Homo sapiens: one gene and its partner. The protein of the gene in region 2 purifies or fractionates together with the protein of the main gene of each other region. This does not show direct contact. Each region holds a gene or a part of one and is shown on either strand. Other genes may lie near its edges.

Region 1 (3,653 bases), on a different chromosome or scaffold from region 2:
AATATACACAACAAAGAATAATCTGGCCCAAAATGTCACGAGTGCCGAGACTGAGAACTCTGGCTCTGCTCCAACCTATCAGCTAGTCTAACCGATTTAGCTCAGTAATAACATTCAGACTCTGTACTCAGCTTCATTATGAGATGTTAAAGAGGATACATTTTAAATTTTTCTTCCTATGGATACCAATTGGCAGACACATTGCTAGGCCCTGAGGAGGCTGAGGGGTGGGTTAAATCTGACTTCTAGATCAATTCTTTCTTAACTCTGTCCTGGGTTTCTCAGCCAGGGAAAAACAAAACAAAATGTTCACCAAAAAAGTTACAACAGAAATCACTGTTATTTTCCAATGGGATTTTCCCTAAGTTCCTCCTAATTGCCTGGTATTTTCAGGCTGATTTCTGATCCTCTAGCCCATACCAGCAGAATAGGTACCAGGTCACTGTTCTGAGTACTTCAACACACATACACATATACCTGTACATAAGTACATGCACACACACTGACCCTGACCAACCCCTTTGAACAAGTTTGGGCCAGAGGTCAAAGTAGCATTCTTAATAGGTTAGGAAGTCAGCCAAAGTACCTACCACAGCCCCAGTGGATGAAATAACCTGGCTCAAGTCAGTTCCTGACTCAGAGGCTGCCATATACAAGGTCAACTAGTAAGCTATGAACTGCAGACTCAAGAAGCCCTGGTACACTGCAGCTCACTAACTACAAAGAACCCAAGTGCTGGCTGGGTGCAGTGGCACACCGCTGTAATCCCAGCACTTTGGGAGTCTGAGGCAGGTGGATTGCTTGAGCTCAGGAGTTCAAGACCAGCCTGGGCAACATGGTGAAACCTTGTCTCTATAAACATACAATTAGCCAGGTGTGGTGGTGCACACCTAGTAGTCCCAGCTACTCAGGAAGCTGAGGTGGGAGAATTGCTTGAGACCAGGCTGTTGAGGCTGCAGTGAGCCAAGATCGTGCCAGCCTGGACAACAGAGTGAGACCCTATCTCAAAAGCAAACAAACAAAAACCCAAATATTCTTCAGAGATCTCCAAAATGTCTTGGAAAGTGCACCATAAATCAAAGGAAGCAATACAGAGTTGAGCCTGGAGGTGTTAACTACCACCATACCCAGCTGCAGGGAAACAAATGACAATCACTTATTTTCAGCAATACCACAGGGCAGGTACTGAGGAAGCCATGTGAGCTCCTCAAGGCAGCTGTTGCCTACCTCTCCTGGGGACCTAGGAAGTGGTCTTTTTGCAGCACCAGATCTGGGGGAGGGTGGGTTGTGGCATCTTCTTTCATCTCCTTGGGTTCACATGCTGCCTCCTTCTCTGCTTGACCTGTCACCTCCAAGGGTTTCTCTTGTTCTCCAAAACCTGCTTGGCCATCTCTGGACAGGCTGTGAGAGCTGTGGCAAGAATGAATCGAGTCCGTCTCCCGATGGTCGTCATCTTGTTCGTGATACTGGTCTAGTTCACTTAGCTGAGAGCTTCCTTGACTCACATTACAGGAGGAGCCATACCTACTGCTGCTGGTGGGGCTGTGAGAATGACAGAAAGACAGATAAGTAAATAAATGCAATCAGGGACCAGGACAAAAGAAAGGAGACATCCAGGAAATAATGACTACATTAGTAGCAAGAATCAAATAGGAGGTTCCTGGGAAGAGAGGACCAAACTTCATAATCTAGAAGAATTAGTCTCTATTCAGCGAAAACACAACAGGAAAACAACACAACATGCTGGGTTCTCCAACGACACTTAACCTCAGTTCTGCACTTGACTTTGAAGTATATTTTATCTTAATAGGCTATTTGTGAGTAGGATTAAAAATTATTAAAATGGCCTGTTACTTATTCCTAAAATTCTTTATTCAGTCTTCTAAAGAAGCTTGTCCAGTGGCTGTGATTAATCTTTCTTTAATTTCCACACAGTAAAATGGAATGAATGAACTCCACTCTTTTTCTATTACTTATTACATTGAGGTCATCATTTCTTCCTCTACAATTGTAAATGTGTACGCCTGTACCTTAGGATGAGCAAAGGAGAGCAGACATGTTCTTTCAGTTATCATCTCAGTTTCCTCATCTGCAAGATGAGTTAATAGAACCCATTGGAAGATAGAGGCCAGGACCAAGAGAATACACAAACGAATGGTCTCATCAACATAAATGCTACAATGATATCCCTGGCAGCATAGGAAGCGTCCCAAAGATGAACATCTGTAACTGAGCTTCTTTCAGGGCAAGGCTCAGTTTTGGAAAGAGTGGACAAAGTCCAACTCCAGGATCTGGGTCAGAGCCGTATTCATGCATCTCTATATCTGAAGACCAGCAAGCCAATCTTTTCTCAATCACCTGTATTCCCATATCCAGAAAGTCATGAGAGAAAGCAGTTATAGCAGAGAATGTGACAGTGGCAAGAAGGGCAGAGTGGTGGAAAGAAGAGCAGTATCTAGAAGTTACTTCCTTGAGTTTTATGGCCCTGTCATCTAAGGGCTTCAGTTCTTTTGAAGAATTTTCTTACCACAGAGTCAAGCCTTTAACTAAAGGGCTTGTGTTTACCCTTGGTCAAAGAAGAGAAATCACTGTTATTTTCCAATGGGATTTTCCCTAAAGTTCCTCCTAATTACCTGGTATTTTCAGGCTGATTTCTGATCCTCTAGCCCATGCCAGCAGAATAGGTACCAGGTCACTGTTCTGAGTAGTTCAACACACAAACACATATACTTGTACATAAGTATACACACACACACACACACACACACACACACACACACACACACTGACCCTGACCAACCCCTTTGAACAAGTTTGGGCCAGAGGTCAAGGTAGCATTCTTAATCTGTACTGTATGGTACTGCTTCTTAGGGGAAATAACAGTACCCTCTGCAGATAGATCCTGTACACTGCTCGAGACTGAAGAACTACAGCAAAGGACAGCTCTGAGTTCCTGTGAGATTTTACTCAAAGCATTTATCAGACATCAGCCTTGAGGGTAGTAAAAGGCAGAGATGATACCATGGAAGAAACTATGCAAATCTGTATGGAATAGGATATGGGAATACAGACTATCCCAAGGCATCCTTTGCACTTTGTATTTTGCTTAATACACTCATTGCCACTGGAGAAAGCATCTTAGAAGACTTGAAAAAACAAAGCAAAATAGATCTATCCCCATCTCCTACAAGATATAAGTGCCTAAGGCCCAAGGAAGCATCCTAGCCTATCATGTAGTTGTAGTTAATATATACCACCAACTACTTACTACCTCTTCCTGCCCTCCTTTCTCCATTTCACATTATACAAGGCAGAGCAAACCAGAGTGAGTAAATATCGGGGGCCCAGCTTTTGCTTTAAGCAGGAAGCTCCTTGTTCCAGTAAATGAATTACATTTGGCAGAGAGAGAAGGGGAGGATGAAAATACCCACACACTGAGTTCTTGTTATTTAACCCCTAATTAACATGAAGCTCGGGTACTAGGAAAGACACAAGAAGGATAAAAAGCAAGCTATGATTAATCTACCACTAAGTCACTTGCATCATAAATGGTCAATTCCTTAAAGCCATTTATGATGCTTGAGTTAAGAACAGGCCTTTTGTTGGTCATGGGCTCCTTGATGTCATTCAGAGTGACTGGCTGCTGTACATTC
Region 2 (2,889 bases):
TTGCGCCCAGGGATTCCTCCTGCCAACGCGTCCCGAGGGCATCATCGGAAAGGCGGCCAAAGGCGCTCAGCGCCAAGTTAGAAACAGCCAACATTTGGAAAGTCCTTAAGTGTGCTCCATAACTCACAGTTATTCCAGAAAGGAATAATCAAAACATTGTGATAACCCATAAAACTGACAATTGAGAAAACATTAAACTGACACAGGGGGAATTTTTTCATAAAATGAGAAAATGCTTACATTAAGAGGAGCACATTTTTACATGTGAGATACAAAAAACACACAGTATAACCTTAACTTGCCTAATAAAATGTATGTGCAGAAAAATACAAAAGGAGCCACACCAAAACACAGAGGTGTTGTTCCTGGGTAGGGGCATAGGGGCATTAAAAGCCCCCTTTCCAGCTTGCAGCGAGCCGAGACCGCGCCACTGCACTCCAGCCTGGGCGACAGAGCGAGACTCCGTCTCAAAAAAAAAAAAACAAAAGCCTCCCTTCCACCTCTGTTGTGGTTTCTGTATTTCTACAATGTTTTAAAATAAGTAAGGCTGACTCAGAAAGGCTTACTAGATATTCAGAAAAAAGATTTTATTCTTCTGCTGAAATGTTTGAAAGTGAAATTATTTTGTAGAGCATTTTCCCTTTAAACTGCAAAGAAGCCCCAAGGTCATTGGTACTTGGAAGTCCAGGGAGAAAGAGCGCTGGGTTAATGATGGAGAAAAGATAGGTGGGCAGACTGGGGCGTAGTCCCTTGGTGTGGACGCCCCAGCGTGCTCTTATTTCAGTGCTCACCCTGTTACGTGTGTCTGGGGCCACTGACTTTCTCCTGCAAGCTGTGGATCTGAATTTAACTCAAATGGGGACATGGGGGCAGGAAAAGGGACCTGAGAGTTCTAAGGGGTGGGGATGGGAAAACTGGTAAAGAAGGTGGTTTGTGGGTTTTCAGATGCACCTAGTAGAGGGAAGTGCTGGGGGGACCAGCCTCCCGGGCCAGGCTGGCTGGAGCTGCCTTAACTTTCCCACCTCTGCTCAGCCCACCAGCTTGTGGACCTGTGGCAGCGTTGTGTTGTGAGAGGCACGTGCAGATTTGGGAGTGCTGCAAACCAAAGTGTTACCTGGACGAGTAAGCCCAGTGTGGGAGTGTGGGTGTGTGGGTCTGCAGTCACAGGCTCTGTCTTTGCGATGGGATGCCATGGGAAACGCTAGGATTTTACCTGGTTTATTAAATTGCTGAGTGGCTAAAAAGATTCCTATGGGTGGGGCTGGCTTATTTCTCTTAAACGATGCCCTTCTGAGGGTACATGTGGTTTTTAGGAACACAAAAGATTCCAAGTCCCTCATGACAAACACAATTCCGGATCTCTTCCTGGAGGCCTTGCAAGGCGGAGTCCAGGCTGCTCCCTAGGAGGGCCCTGGTGACTCGAGCTTGTTGGCGATCATCTGGCTGACCTTGTGCAGGGCCTCCTGGAACTGGGGGTACTCGTCCCGCACGCGGTCCAGGATGGTGGCGATGAGAGCCAGTCGCTTGTCCAGGCGCTGGCGCTCCAGCACTAGGGACTGCTTGGAGCGGAACAGGAACACGTAGCGCCCCTCCTTCACAGCCTGCAGGTGCTTAAGGCGTGTCTGCAGGGCCACGATCTCTGAAAGGTTCTGGGTAGGAAAAGAGACTCCATATAGGGCTATGCAAACCAGAAGAAAGACACCTGCTGGCCCCCCACAAACTCAGATTCCAGGAAATGCCGAAGAGGAGGCGAGACCTACGCCTGAAAAGGGACGGCGTGAAGGTGTTGCGCCCCTGGATCTCAGGGAAGAGGCTGAGAGGCACTGGGTCGGTGCTTTATGGGTCACCCATCATCACCATCTAGGAGGCATTCTTTTTTTTTTTTGAGATGGAGTCTTGCTCTGTCGCCCAGGCTGGAGTGCAGCGGTGCGATCTCGGCTCACTGCAAGCTCCGCCTCCCGGGTTCACGCCATTATCCTGTCTCAGCCTCCTGAGTAGCTGGGACTACAGATGCCCGTCACCAGGCCCGGCTAATTTTTTGTATTTTTTTTTTTTTTAGTAGAGACAGGGTTTCACCGTGTTAGCCAGGATGGTCTCGATCTCCTGACCTCGTGATCCGCCTGCCTCGGCTTCCCAAAGTGCTGGGATTACAGGTGTGAGCCACTGTGACCCGCCGGCATTTTTTTTTTTTTTTTTTGAGGCTGTCTCGCTCTGTTACCTAGGCTGGAGTGCAATGGCACAATCTTGGCACACTGCAACCTCTGGCTCCCGGCTTCAAGCGATTCACCTGCCTCAGCCTCCCAACTAGCTGGAATTACAGGCACCCACCCCCACCACCACGCCCGGGTAGCTGAGATTACAGGCGCCCGCCACCATGCCTGGCTAATATTTGTATTTTTAGTTGAGATGGGGTTTCGCCATGTTGGCCAGGCTGGTCTCGAACTCCTGACCTCAAGTGATCCACCTGCTGCGGCCTCCCAAAGTGCTGGGATTACAGGCATGAGCCACCGTGCCCGGCTTAGGCAACCTTCTTGACACCTGCCGTGTGTCAGGCCCAGTGCCAGGCACGTTCCCCTCATCATCTCAGTTGGCCAGGCCAGAACCTTGGAGCCATTCTCCACCTCCGTCTCTGCTCACACCACAGCCAACCCAGCAGGAATCCCATCGGGCGATGTTGGCATAACGCATATGCAGAGCCTGATGGCTTCTCGCCAGCCCCACAGGGGCCGCCCTGAAGCACTGCAAATAGCCCCAGGTGCCCCCCGCATCCATGCTTCATCCACATGCAATCTTAGAGCGCGCGGGAGCCCGCTAAAGCCCAAGTCACCTCTCAGACCCAACGCCCTCCTCTGTGTGCCCACCTCCCCAAGAGAAAAGTCCAAAGTCATG

Evidence for each region.
Region 1: the proteins of CCDC40 (region 2) and UNC13B purify together in Homo sapiens (affinity purification with mass spectrometry; 2 studies listed by BioGRID and IntAct, with this or other methods). This does not show direct contact.

Annotation. Positions count from the first base shown.
Region 1 is NC_000009.12:35,308,356-35,312,008, reverse strand, and holds part of UNC13B (protein unc-13 homolog B), read right to left. Parts: coding exon 3,597-3,653; intron 1,543-3,596; coding exon 1,228-1,542; intron 1-1,227. UniProt on the Homo sapiens protein: Plays a role in vesicle maturation during exocytosis as a target of the diacylglycerol second messenger pathway.
Region 2 is NC_000017.11:80,098,287-80,101,175, reverse strand, and holds the end of CCDC40 (coiled-coil domain-containing protein 40), read right to left. Parts: intron 2,349-2,889; exon of another isoform or gene 2,299-2,348; intron 1,650-2,298; coding exon 1,401-1,649; 3' UTR 563-1,400; downstream 1-562. UniProt on the Homo sapiens protein: Required for assembly of dynein regulatory complex (DRC) and inner dynein arm (IDA) complexes, which are responsible for ciliary beat regulation, thereby playing a central role in motility in cilia and flagella.